Homo sapiens: one gene and its partner. The gene in region 2 interacts genetically with the main gene of each other region. Each region holds a gene or a part of one and is shown on either strand. Other genes may lie near its edges.

Region 1 (7,262 bases), on a different chromosome or scaffold from region 2:
TCTATGGATGGACGGTGGTGATGACAGCACATCAATGTACTCGCTACCACAGAACTGCATACTTAAAAAAATAGTTAAAATGGGAAATGTTATGTTATGTATATTTTATCACTATAAAAAAAGTCTCCCTAAACCTGTGAGGCAGTGGTAAAGACCAAGAATATGCTAACTTTTCCTTATGCCACCAAGGAAGAAAAAAATAACATTTCAGTACCTTCTATGTAGAAATCACTCACTTATCCGCACACAAAAGCAAAAACAAAGCAAAACAACAACTTTGATTATGTATTACTAGCCCTTCTTTACAATGAGGAAACTGAGGTTCCTAAGTTAATGTACCAAGGTAAGTAGTAAGAACCAGTAATAGGTTTCAAAGGCAGATCTGCCTGGCTCCAAAGCCTGCGTTCTTTTCACTCCACAGTGTTTTCTCCTACCCACAGAAGTCTTTTATGAACAGGCTTTCTACTTTGACTATACAGCTTTTAGACTTAAAAGTTGGGCCTGCTTTCTGAAGCAGGCTAAACAAAGTCAGTCAAACAAACACATTCACTACATGTCCACCATATGAGGCCCAAGGCTGGCAATGAAATAATGGAGTCATGTTTCCATTCAGCCATTGGCCATATGGCAGAAAAAAAAAAAAAAAGCACAATTAAAATTTCTGTGTTGGTCTACTCCTCAAAAGCCAGTGAATACCCCAGGAAAAATCATTAAGTCTTTCAATATTCCATATGGCCAGAATAAGTGGAAATAGTTTCATTTTACAATGTAGAAGCATATTCATCTTTTTCCTAAACATTCTACCATCATAGTTACTGATCTGCTGTTACTCACTAATGTTCTGCTTCAAGCTGGAATTTAACGATTAAGAAATGTTTTGTGCTGTGCAGAAAATAGGCACCTCTTAGTTGTTTTCAGAAAGATAGCAAGGCCCTCTTGACTCTACTATGCCCGTCGGGCAAGGTTTCATTTTCTTACTCATGTGTGAAACACACACAGAAGACTAATGCAGATTGTCTGTGCCTCCCCAAACAAAGTAGGGTGTTGGCATTATCTAGTGAATACAGCCTGCAGAGGAGTAAGTACCAAAGGGTAAGCCTGTCCTTATCCATGCAGCTCAGGTTGCCAACTTTTTACTTCATTTCATGATGCACAGCTTGATTCTAGAACTCCACTGGGTCATTCTGGATCGAAGATCTATCCTAGGTCTCTTCTCTAAGAAGATGATCTTTACATACTTCCCTTTAAGATGCAAATAGGAAGTGGAACTGCAAAATCCATGTCACGACTTGTTTTGCCCACAAGTTTGATTAAATTCAGTGAATCCTTCAAGGAGTTCCATGGTTTCAATACTAGCAGTACTTTGTCTCTTAGGCATGGTGCAGGTTTACTTTAATGAGCAAAAAACCTCTGAGAAATAGACTTTTTTTTTCTTTAGTAGCTATAAAAGCTTCCCATCTCTCAAAATGTGCTGCTACTCCACAGATTTTGAGAAGCCATATCGATTTCATAAAGATAGCATTAAAAATAGCCCTATAGCTCTTAACAAGTGAGAACGATGATAAAGGAGGAGGCATATACATACATACACTCTCAACTAGCATATTTGGTATCTAAGAACCTATGTTTCAAGAATCTGTGAGTGTCAAAATATTGACTTTTTTTAAATTTTTACTCCACTATAAGCAGTTTTTTCTCTTTCTTTTGAAAAATTATCTCCTTTCATTATAGAAACTCTAGAAGAAAAACCCTTTTATCAATGACTACTTACTGCTTAACTGTACTTTCTGTTGAAGATTAAAAAAGCTTAATTCTTTAAATCGTGCTGCATGAGGGTATTAAACTCCCTAATATATCCTGTCAGAGGAATCTCACAATCTCAGTTCTCATCTGCTAGACCTATTTAGTGTACTTTTACATATCATTCATAAATATGAACAAGTCATAGACCCAGGCTCTCATTAAGAACATCCTTTGCTCAAGAAAATCAAAGAATAAAAATCATGTTCTGGTTTTACTACTTCAGTCTATCTACCAGATATTCGCGTAAGGAAACAACCCAGCTGCACTTTTTTATTTTGTCCCTCACCGAGGCTAACATGCACCTTGACCTAGAGGTGAATAAAATGCATATAAACATAAAATCCATGCATATGCTAGTATCTGATTCTGGACAAGTTACTGGCCTTAAACCCGCCACGCTCCTTTGAACAAGGATGCAACTTTAGGATAAGACCTACTGGCAAATGATAGCTGTGTCTGAGGTTATCCTGAAAGCAGCTGCACAAGCTGAGGGAGGAAGACACTGTTTTTTAATGGTAAATACTGCCCCTCACATACGCAATTCAAGCCTTTGTTGGCAAAATCTAAGTACAAAAGAATTTAACTCCCCCAAAAGCCAAATCACAGCCATTATTTTTGCAAAACAGAAGATATCCCAGTGCAATGTGTAAGAAAGAGAATGCAATTAATATTTTACACCACTCACTCCCCTAAAACAAGGGGACTGCCGGGCTCCGATGACCAGACCACAGCTTCACAGCCCCAGATGGATTTCGACTCAGCCCTGGTTTTCCTCCGAGAGAACTATACAAACAGCTTCTTGTATTTAGCATGTTGGCCTGTTTAGTCATCAAATCTAAGCACTGATGATGAGGTTTTTTTAAATCAAATGTGTCATAAATGTGGTTATTCTCAAAGACCCTTCCAAAAGAATCTAATCATTTCCCCTAGTCCTGAAGCGATGTCTCTATCATCCCTTAGAAATCGGACCTTAAAACCACAAGCGACGGTCGTTTTTCTCAATTAAAAACGAGCAACATGGAAAACGTTTCATTTACCTTAGCTCCCGAGGCTTGGTCCGAGGAGCGTGGTTTTCCCCTCTCCGGAGCTGATCTGTGCAGGCGAGCTCCGGCGCAGCCCAGCCCAGCCCAGCCCAGCCCAGCAGTAGTAGGAGTTGCCCACGGAGCGCGGCGGCAGCGTTGTGAGTATGTGTAGCAGCGGCTGCAGCCCAGGGACTAGTCCCCACCCAGCTTTGTCTTCAATCAACGTTCTTTCTACAGGAAGCAGCGCATCTCCCACTTCCTCCTCTTCTTGGTAGCTGTTAGCGGCTTGCTTCTTTTCCCTCTCATTTCCATTTCAGGGCTTACTCTGGTGGTTTTGTCTGCTCCTGGGCTGCTGACAGTGATTTGACTTTAATCCCCCTTCTCCCTTTGTTCAAGTCCCTCTGGTGCTGTCTGTTCCTTCCTTCCCCTTTTCTCATCCCCCCACGGTCACCTCCACGACAGCTTCCACACACTGCTCAGTCGGCCCCCTTCCTGGCACACTGCCTGCTTTTTTAGCCTGAACCTGGCTTGTTGCTATTGTTGTTCTTGCTGTTGTTGTTTCTACTGCTGCTGCTGTTTTTTTTTGGGTCAACATCCCCTGGCCAGGTTCTGGCCCCCGAGATCCCACACCAGCCTCCACTGTTCCTCCTGATTTACTGTGGTCCCCATCAAGCCAGCTAGCTGGGAGCTTGCAGCTTGCAGCTTGCAGCTTCTCACTGCAGCATTTTTCTCTGTGGCCAACATTTCAGAGGCTTCATTTCTCCAAGGTCCCACTACCACTGAGATCTTACTTAACCCACATGCTCAGAAAAGAATGGCCCTGATAAGTATTCTTATGGGGCACGGGAACTAAACCAAGTTGGCAATGCTACCTATAGGCCTAATAGTGAGGACTATTCCCAAAAGATTCTCATAGATGGGAAGGAATGAGGTGGTGCTGAATGCTGCACATTCCCAACAGAGAAACTGAATACTCCTCTCCCCATTCCACACACACTAGTAGGGCTGAAGGACCCTCATGATCCTCCAGTCCCTTCCCTTCATCTTAGGAGGTAATATCGTAGAACCCACCAGGGTAGAGCCTGCAAGCTGTCTCTGTCTGCCAGAATTTCAATCCAAATTGCCATTAATGACTGTATGAACTTGGGCAAATTATTTAACATCTATGTGCCTCAGTTTCCTCATCTGCAAAACATAGTTGATGATAGTCATGCTCTACATTGGAAATATGAGGATTAAATGAGATGGTATACAAGGTGCTAATAATAGTTCTGGGGATATAGGACGTATTCGGCACATATTAACTCTTATTATTTTTAGAGGATGTTGGGCCTCACATTCAGCAAGTGATTTCGCCAGTCAGCAGCCGAACCCTCACCAGTACTTGGTTTTCCAATTCCTCACTATTAGTATGTTCACAATTGAGCCCAGATGCTTTAATAACAATTTATTCAACGTGTGAGTCATTCTCCCCCTAGTACTAACACAAGGTACTTTGGGGAAGCTACAGATTAAACATGAGATGGGGGAAGGGGAATCCTGTTCTAGTGTCCAGGCAACATTATGGAGTTAAAAACAAAAACAACAACAACAAAAAACACCTCTTCTCAGGAATCAGTGCCTGGAAAGCTAATCTTGCCAGGAAACAGTTAATTCCCCAACTCCTCCTTTTTAATCCAGTTTTGCCTTAATCCTCCAGCAAGTAAACTAACAGGAAATGTTAGAAATCTAGGACTGATGGAGAATAACTCTCCAGTTGAGCCTTCCAAACACATCGTGAGGACCACAGCACGTTAACCTAGAAGGTACAGAATTTAATTTCTATGAAATGTTCTGAGACAGTCCCAAAACACCCTTTGTTTTGATTTGAACAGTTTGCTTATTTTTTCAAGGAAATCTTTCATCAAAAAGGACCCTGATGTCAACTCACTCACACCTGAAAATTACAAAATGGATTGATTTAAGATTGAAAATGAGCAACTAGCTTTGATCCACCAGCAGATAGAAATGCAGTAGTGAGAGGGATTGGGCATGAATCCACCAACATGTGAGTTATCTCCAAACCAGGAACCCTTGTGCCAAAGGTTACCAGGAACTTTTAAATGTAAATTTAAATATGCATGATGCCAAGTCTAAGAAAAATGAGAAGCATGTTATTAATGGTTGGAAACAAGACTATGGTTAATTTTAGACAAGTAGGTTCTGGCATAAACTCTAGATTCAAGTACAGTAATTTTTTGTGTCTTTTTGTTTCTAACTCTCTCTCAACCATCCTCCGATGGTTGGTATTTATATTTAAGCCTATATAGGTTGGTATTTATACTTAAGCCTATATAGGAAAACCTCTTTCAAACAATAAAATCTCTAGGAATTTTGCCTGCTGCCTTTTAATTAGTTCTTCCATCTCTGGCCCTTATAAAACTCACAGTAGGTTAATCGCCAGTGTTGGGAGGTGCCAACAAAACTCTATACAAAGCTAAAAACTAGATTTTAAGACCTCTCTTTCATTAATACCTCATTGCTTTTCAACTGGTCCTAATAGCCTCTTTTTCAGGAGAGAAAAGTAAAGTGTGGGGGTATAGCTTGGCCAGGATAGATTAATCCAGTTTAGAGCTCTTAACACAAGTTTGCATACCAAGTTTGCAAAGTGTTAATTTCTTAGGAAAATGACATCTCGCCATTAATAGTTTATGCATCAATTGCTAACCATGAGCCTATCCCAGTACATTTTATCACTGGGTAAAACAAAGTCTGTAAAATACTCTAACATTCATGCATGGCCTATTTGCAGGCATTAATACCTTGTATTTCTTACATCTACTGGTAGCGGAGGTTGGGTAATGAGGAGGACATAATTTTGGCCTGATGTCTCTCCTATGTTATTGAGCTTTCTAGCTGGATGTTCCTTGGAGTTATGTTTAATAATCCCCAAATTATGTACTATACCTTCATCCAAAGCCTGTTCCTCTTTCTATATTCTCCATTTCATTTAATGAGGAATACAAACCAGTTGCCCACATCAGGAATATAAGAATAATCCCAAAACCTTTTATCTTTGTTATCCCAATCTGATTTAAAGTTCCTCTTCCTTTCCTTCTCACCACCAAACTATCTCCTTGCCCAAACCCCTCCTCTCTCTTCCTCTTGCCACTGTCTTATTTTACAAATGCTTTGGTTTTTTCTGTGCAATTACAATACTTTCTACTTTGTCCTCCTACCTCCAGTCTCTCTTCGAAGCCATCCCCATCAGAAGTACATTGCTGAGATGGAGAGTTGATCAAGTCACTTTCCTACTATAATTCTTCAGTATCTTCCCCTCCAGGTTGCTTACAGGATATATGCCTTAATTCCTCTGCATGGCATACAAAGCCTTCTGTGATGTCACCTGTCCACATTCTCACCTTAGGGCCTGTCGCAGCCTTATATCCTACAACCTTCACAACAGGTTCCTGATGGGACTGTGCTGCTTTCTCCCTGCATCTTGGCACATGCTATTTCTGTTGCCAGAAATGCCCTATCCCTTCCTCTATTTTGCCTGCTAGTAAACCCCTACTTATCCTTTAGGACTCAGCTTTTCTCAGAAGCCTTCCCTGGCCGTGGAAACTAGGCAGGTGCTTCCTTTTCTGTGAGTATGACTGGTGCCTTGCCTCTACTTCCATTTCAGCACTAAAGCCATTATTTTCAGGTTTTGTTAGATGTGCATCTCACCCATTAGCATTTGGGTCCATTAAGGTTAGGTCCACATTTGCTTGTCACACAGCAGAGTCAACAGATGTTTGTATAATGAAAAGGCATCATTGGCAGAAATTCCATTCCTTTGAGTGAGGGGAGGAAAAGGAAGTCTCAAAAATGAGAAGTTGGTCATGGGGTAAGAAATAAAATCCCTCCCTCTCTATATATATATTTTGCAAATTTTCTATAGAAATCCATGGCACATGCACACAAAATTCTGAATATTTGTTATATGGGCAAGCCTAAAAAATTCTGGGACAACTCCTAGTTCCATTTCTGCATTGAACTTCTTATAAAGAAGCATAGTCTGGCAACAAAAAAGTAATTAGAAAATAAATATTAAGGCTGGGCTCAGTGGCCTATGCCTGTAATCCCAGCAATTTGGGAGGCCAAGGCAGGCAGATCACTAGGTCAGGAGTTCAAGACCAGCCTGGCCAACACAGTGAAACCCCATCTCTACTAAAAATACAAAAATAAGCCGGGTGTAGTGGTGCACGCCTGTAGTCCCAACTACTCAGGAGGCTGAGGCAGGAGAATCACTTGAACCCAGGAGGCAGAGGTTGCAGTGAGCCAAGATTTTGCCATTGCACTCTACCTGGGCAACAGAGCAAGACTCCGTCTCGAACAACAACAACAAAAAAGAAAAGAAATATTAAAAAGAAAGCTATTCTTTATTTGTATCTCTGTAGGAACTTTAAAGAGACT
Region 2 (7,024 bases):
TGGGGGTGGGAGGGACTCAGGAATTGGGCAGCAGGCCTGTTGAAAATCATAGGAAAGGCTGGGCGCGGTGGCTCATGCTTGTAATCCCAGCACTTTGGGAGGCCGAGGTGGGCGGCTCACAAGGTTAGGAGTTCGAGACCAGCCTGGCCAATATGGTGAAACCCCGTCTCTACTAAAAATACAAAAATTAGCCAGGCATGGTGGTGCACGCCTGTAGTCCCAGCTACTCGGGAAGCTGAGGCAGAAGAATCGCTTGAACCCAGGAGGCAGAGGTTGCAGTGAGCCGAGGTCGTGCCACTGCATTCCAGCCTGGGTGACAGAGCGAGATTCCATCTTAAAAAAAAAAAAATCGTGCGAAAGTATTTTTCAACAAGCTCATTTAAGGGTCATGTAGAAGGTAATTTTGTTTAACTATCTGTCATTAATTAGGGCTTAGGTTCTTTAAAATTGAAGGTTAACTGGTGGATGTGAGATAAGTTGCAAGAGATTTTTGTTCAATAGAAAAGATAACCTCAAAGGTTATGGTTTTATTCCCCTCTGTGATGTTAACTATTTGGTATCTAACTTTGAGTCTTACTCTAGCTTCCATGAGGAGCTCATCTCAGTTTCTTGGATCCTCCTTTAAGCCAGCTCTATCATCGTGCTGGTTTCCTCATTAATGAGCGGGCACAGGCTCACTGTATATTTACGTATGTGTGAGGTTTTGGAACTGTTTGAAAATGATTCCCCGAAACGAGGGAGAGTTGATGGTTTCCTATTTTGGTTCTGCTTTCCCTGGAAGAGGAGAGGTTCCTGCCATGGGTACTTGGCTTGAGCTGCCCTCTTGGGGCATCTGACTTCTCCTTGGTCACCAGGATATCTGAAGCTTCACATGGTCCCGGGAAGGATGTGGAGGAAAAGGCCATCAGCAGTGAGTGATGGTTCCAAGAGTCCCCCCTGCTCTGAGGCCAAAGGACCCTCATTCTACTTCCGGCTCCAGCTGCTGCCCTGCCTGGCCCTTGTGCTGCAGGCTTCACATGTTATCATTCCAGGGCCAGGGCCTCACCACCGCCAGCACCTCCGTGGCACATCTGCTTTCTGTGCTGCCCAGAACGGAGTTTCTACCCAGCCGCCTGCAAAAATATCTCAAGGCATAGCGTGCATTGAGCTGAGGAGGGACAGCCGGTTCTACTTGAAACTGGGAAGTGGTCTCCCCACAGGTAATCCCCTCCCCCAACCCCACAACTCTCTTATCCTTTTCAAAATAAAAAAGAATCATTTCGGTCTTTGGTGGAAACCCAACGCCCTGCCAAGACATTTGCATTTTAAATTCTTTCTCTGAGCGTACTCGAAAGGAAGAAAGGCATTGCCTCCTAGCAAAGGAACTTCAGTCACCAACCAGAAGCTCAGAAGGCATTCTGATCTGTTTGTTTTGGGGGACAGTGGGAGGGAGTGTGGGAGGGAATGAAGGAGTTTGACCTTAAACTGGCGTGTTCCTTTAGGGTTTGTTCCTTTAACTGGTTTGTTCCTTTCCTTGGGAAGCTGGGTTGGCAAACCCAGCTTTTACCTTTCAGAGTCCAGCGCCTCCTAAGGGTCTTCCTGATGTCCTAAATCTCCACCCAAGTCTCTACCATGAGGTGAGGACCTTGTTATAGGTAGACTTGGGGGTTGGCCATCCCTAGCTGTACTTGCTCTGCTCTTTGTAATGACAGACAGCTGACTGATGGGGGGGCAGGTAGATCAGCTGATTGGGCGAGGCACAGACAGGTCAGCTGACTGGGTGGGGCGCAGACAGATCAGGTAACTGGTTGGGTAGGAAAGTTATGAACACTTCCAAAGAAATTTACAAGCCAGTCTTGAGCTTTCTAGGGTCCATAAGTTGTTGGGGAATAAGATTTGGTACTTCTGTTCTGTGTGTGTTTAATGTGTAAGGTGAGAATTAAACGCTGCCAGTACTAAACAGGACCTGGTGCATGTATACATTAGAAAGAGAGAAAACAAAAATGGGATTATAACATACTTAGTATTGGGGGGACTGCTTTTTCGCTCAACTAGTTATTCAACATCTTTTGAGCTCAGTAACTATTTCTACAATATCATTTTTAATAATTGAATATCATTCCACCAAATGACTTTGCCGCAGTATACTCAACCATGTTCAATATTTAGGTTTTTTGGCATTGGTTGATTATTAGCAAGGATGCGTTGATGAACGTCTTTGTTTTGTAGCTACATCTTTGTACATCCATAGGGATTCATCAGGATAAAATTGAGGAATGGAATTGCTGGGTGAAAGGGTATGCTTTCTGATGCTTTAGCAAACACAGCCCCCCATTCCTCACCAGCGCTGGCATTTTTGTTCTTTCTTTTTAATTTTTGCCAATTTGATAGGGGGGGAAGAAGAGTCTTGCTCTTTAGTTTTGCATTTTCTTTATGAGTAGTGAGGGTGAATATTTTGGGGGGTTCTTTTTGATGTACTTGAATCATATTTATTCATATTTCCATAAGTGTATTTGCCTATTTCTTAATGGACTAAAAAAAAAACCTCTTCATGGGTTTGATATATTAATTTTTTTTTTTTTTTTTTTTTTTTTTAGATGGAGTCTCGCTTTGTCTGCAGGCTGGAGTGCAATGGCACGATCTTGACTCACTGCAACCTCTGCCTCCCAGGTTCAAGCGATTCTCTGCCTCAGCCTCCCGAGTAGCTGGGACTACAGGTGTATGCCACCACGCCCAAATAATTTTTGTATTTTTAGTAGAGACGGGTTTCACCATGTTGGCCAGGATGGTCTCGATCTCCAGACCTCATGATCTGCCCACCTCGGCCTCCCAAAATGCTGGGATTACAGGTCTGAGCCACAGCACTTGGCCTGATATATTAATTTTTATTGCAAATATTTTTCTCAGTTTGTCATTTACCTTTCACTCAAAGTGGGCTTGCCATATGAAAAGCTTTAAATTTTATGCTTTCATATCTGTTAGTCTTTTCCTTTATAATTTTTGCCCTGGGGAATATGTTTGGCAGCTCTTCTCCACTCCAGGCTAATACAACCTATTTTTCTTCTGTAGTTTTTGTGGTCTTGTCTTCTACACCTAAACCTTTAATGTATCTAAAAGTTATTTTTATGTTTGCATTAGAACTCTTAATTTTATTTTTTAGATAGAATTTTTTTTTTTTTTTGAGACAGAGTTTCGCTCTTGTTGCCCAGGCTGGAGTGCAATGGTGTGATCTCGGAGGCACTTGAACCTCCACCTCCTGGGTTCAAGTGATTCTCCTGCCTCAGCCTCCTGAGTAGCTGGGATTACAGGCTCATGCCACCACACTCAGCTAATTTTCTATTTTTAGTAGAGATGGGGTTTCACCATATTGGTCAGGCTGGTCTCGAACTCCTGACCTCAGGTGATCTGCCCGCCTTGGCGTCCCAAAGTGCTGGGATTACAGGCATGAGCCACCACACCTGGCCTTTTTAGATAGTCTTCTAACTCAATATTTTTTATGGTCTACCAATTATCCTGATATCATCTATGAAATGACTGATTTTTTCATCAGTAATTTGAGGATGCCACTTTGTCATATAATATAATTTTGTATATTTAATATATTTCTAGATATTACATCTTCTTCCATTATCTATCTATTCTTATACCCATAGTGTACTATTTTAATAACTATAGCCCTATAGTACCTTCAAAAAATGGAAATATTTCCTTCTTACTCTCCTTTAAAAATACATGAATGAATATATACTAAGTGCATAAATAAATCTTTCAAATAGATTTTTTTATTTTCTTTATATATAAATTTATTTATTTGTAAAATATTTATATATTATGTTTTTTAGTTTACATATATTTTATAAATTTTAAAAATATCTTGGTATTTTGATTGTGGTTACGTTTACTTTCCTAACACCTGGTCTCGTTACAATATTGATTCAACCCAGCAATACGATTCTTCAATTATTCATTCTTCAGCAAAGTTTGTTTTCTCTATATAGGTTATTAAAATTTCTTTTATTTTTTATTTTTAATTGCTATTGTAAATTTTTTAAAATTATGTTTTCTCACTGGTTAATGCTGGTTTATAAAAAAAGCTCTTAGCTACCTGTTTTCTAGTTCTGACAATTCTTTGTTCAGGGGATTCTCTCAGTCTCGACAGAAAACCAATTGTTTGAGCTCCAACTAATTAAAATTTCTCTTCTTCAGAAGAGAAAGTATTCTTTATTTTTGTCTTTTTGCATAGGCAAATACCTATAAGCCAAAAGAGGAAGATTATTGGCTCTAAAGAACATGCCTCTAGTATTTTACCTTGGGCTGTTGCCATATTAAAAGCACTTCTAGAGTAATCGTTTCCATATATTGAGGGGTTTTGAATATCAGGAATGATGATGAATTTTATGAAATATTTTAGAGGCATCTATTGAGATGCTTTTGCGAATTTATTCCTTTGAGTACTGATTCGCTGAGCCGCTTCTCAGTAAATCACACTTGCTAAGTTTTCTCCTGCACTACTGTAGCTTCCTTAGACCTGATTTGCATGTCTATGACAGCACCTGCAATTTCTGAAGAATTCTTACTTTTCAGACCCCACACATGAAAACTGAGTCCCGGGTCTTGTCCACATTTGTCACAGTGGTCATTGTTCCTAGTACCAGCCACCTTCCCCAACCCAAACTGCATCAACCCACACACACAATTACCTACTTGTTCCTGGGGCACAGAGAACATGCAAAGCCCTCTTGTCAGCATCCTGGGGGCTTCTCTGTCTGATCTGGGTAGCCTTGGAGACCCCTTGACTAACCAGATCAGAGGCACAGGCCAAGGTGGGGTCTCCTTGCCCTGAGTGCCTGCTCCTACTTCCCCTAACAATCCCTCCTCGAGTTACCTCCCATATTTACTTTCATCTTGTGTGGATTCAACCATCAGATGCTTGATGGTGCTGTGAAGAGGAGACTCCATGTTTGTGAACCAAGGCGTTGGCAGAGATGAATCAAAGGATGCAAGGTAAGGAGGGTCACAAAAAACAGTTTCAGAGGAGTTGGAAGCATTCTGACCTTCTGAGCCCTGTCCCCCGTGCCAGCTGCCTCAGTGCTTACCTGGGGCCTTGAGTTCAGCATCAATGAAGGTGAGCAGCTCCTGGCAGATGCTGCAGTAAGGAACAGGCCAGGTCAGGAACCGGTGGTAGGTGCTGGCTGCCTTCAGAAGGAGATCCGAGTCTGGTGGGAAGTGTGGTGTCTAGGATGGAGGCAGGCAACAAGCAAAGAGATCTAGGTGAGAAAAGGCTCAGATAGTCCCAGACAGCTTCTGCTCCCTTTCTGGAATATTCCACAAAAGACACACATTTCCTGGCCGCAGCGTGTCCCAGGACAAGGTCAGGTGGAACTGGAAGTTACTCACAGGGAGTGGGTTACAGATGGGCAAGATGGCACCCAGGGTGTCTCTACTGGGAGGGACTTGCTTTACCCAATGCTTGAGTGAGCCTCTCTGAAAGGCTGTCCCCTTACTGGTAAATGGTGCCATTGCTGACACTTGTTATGGATAATGGTCTTCAATGCCTAAACCACCTTTACTTAAATAGCCTCATTACAGGTAAATGTTTATTTTTTGAGGATGGATTCAGTCAGTGTACACATTTGATGCCCCCCTGTCTGGTGAATACAGGGGGTGATCACATTGGGTGAAACCGACTACTGGGGTGAAAAATGAGGTGGACATAGAATATCTCTTGTGGCCTGTGAACAGACAGTGACAGCAGTTCCAACATGGGAGCCCAGAGATGCCAGGCACCATGGCGGCCACATGGAGTCACCAGAAGCCTCTCATGGTGGCTGCTCTGAAGCCATCTAAGGGTTGAAACCCATTTCACATGCCGCTGCTTGACAGTTTCTCTCTCTGCTTATCTCCAGAGGTGTGAGGGCTCTGCCCCAGATAGAGGTCGCTCCTCCCCCTCCTCCCTCACCTCCAGCATCCTGGCCCACGTGGACTTACACAAAGAACAGTGGAATAGAAGAGCAGGGCCAGCGGGGTGAGCAGGTCGTAGGTGCCCTTCTCCTGGACCTGTGGAGAGGAGGAGAAGGGGAATGAGCCTCATTCACGGGGTCCAGGGCTCCCTGAGGCAGAATACAGTGGTTCTTCCTCATTCTAGCCTTTCTTTTTTTTTTTTTTTTAGGGGAAAATAGTGCAATCACATGACAAACATTTGGAAAATGGATGTAAACGAAAACACTTACAATTTCCCCTCCCAAACCCAACCACAGCTGTTTCAATGTCCCTCTTCTGATGCCATTTTTGCCCTATGTATTTTCTTTTCTTTGTTTTTAAATTTTATTTTAAGTTCTGGGATACATGTGCAGAACGGGCAGGTTTGTTACATAGGTATACATGTGCCATGGTGGTTTGCTGCACCCATCAACCTGTCATCTAGGTTTTAAGCCCCACATGCATTAGGTATTTGTCCTAATGCTCTCCCTCCCCTTGTCCCCCATCCCCGACAGGCCCCGGTGTGTGATGTCCCCTCCCTGTGTCCATGTGTTCTCATTGTTCAAATCCCACTTATGAGTGAGAACATGCGGTGTTTGGTTTTCTGTTCCTGTGTCTGCGAAGCTATAAGCTGTGTGTATATTTTTACTCCTAACGTATTTTACATATAGTATTATAAGTAAATTTCTGTTTTACTATACGGTCTCTAAGACCACCTTTTTTCCCTTCTGGTTATACATTTACCTGTTATTTGTGTTATAAATATTTTTTTCCAGTTGGTTGTTTGCCTTTTAATTTTATAAATATTTTTGATGTACAGAAATTACAGGTGTTGATTTTTCCTTCATGGATTTTTGCTTTTGCATGCAAGGATCATGTAAATATTCATATATACTTTCTTATCTTCTTTGAAGCTTCGTTTTCTGAAATTGAAATATTTAGTCTGGGCCCAGTGGCTCATGCTTGTAATCTCAACACTTTGGGAGGCCGAGGCAGGTGGATCACTTGAGGCCAGGAGTTCGAGACCAGCCTGACCAACATGGCAAAACCCCATCTGTACTAAAAA

Evidence for each region. Genes that interact genetically often act in the same process or in processes that back each other up.
Region 1: of PIK3R5 (region 2) and GNG2, changing one enhances a phenotype caused by changing the other (phenotypic enhancement), as found in Homo sapiens cells (one study listed by BioGRID).

The regions. Positions count from the first base shown.
Region 1 is NC_000014.9:51,856,369-51,863,630, reverse strand, and holds the start of GNG2 (guanine nucleotide-binding protein G(I)/G(S)/G(O) subunit gamma-2 precursor), read right to left. Parts: upstream 3,020-7,262; 5' UTR 2,841-3,019; intron 2,308-2,840; exon of another isoform or gene 2,241-2,307; intron 1-2,240. UniProt on the Homo sapiens protein: Guanine nucleotide-binding proteins (G proteins) are involved as a modulator or transducer in various transmembrane signaling systems.
Region 2 is NC_000017.11:8,899,702-8,906,725, forward strand, and holds part of PIK3R5 (phosphoinositide 3-kinase regulatory subunit 5), read right to left. Parts: intron 6,882-7,024; exon of another isoform or gene 6,703-6,881; intron 6,037-6,702; coding exon 5,968-6,036; intron 5,215-5,967; coding exon 5,076-5,214; intron 2,616-5,075; exon of another isoform or gene 2,577-2,615; intron 1,617-2,576; exon of another isoform or gene 1,522-1,616; intron 1,200-1,521; exon of another isoform or gene 1,096-1,199; intron 1-1,095. UniProt on the Homo sapiens protein: Regulatory subunit of the PI3K gamma complex. Required for recruitment of the catalytic subunit to the plasma membrane via interaction with beta-gamma G protein dimers. Required for G protein-mediated activation of PIK3CG.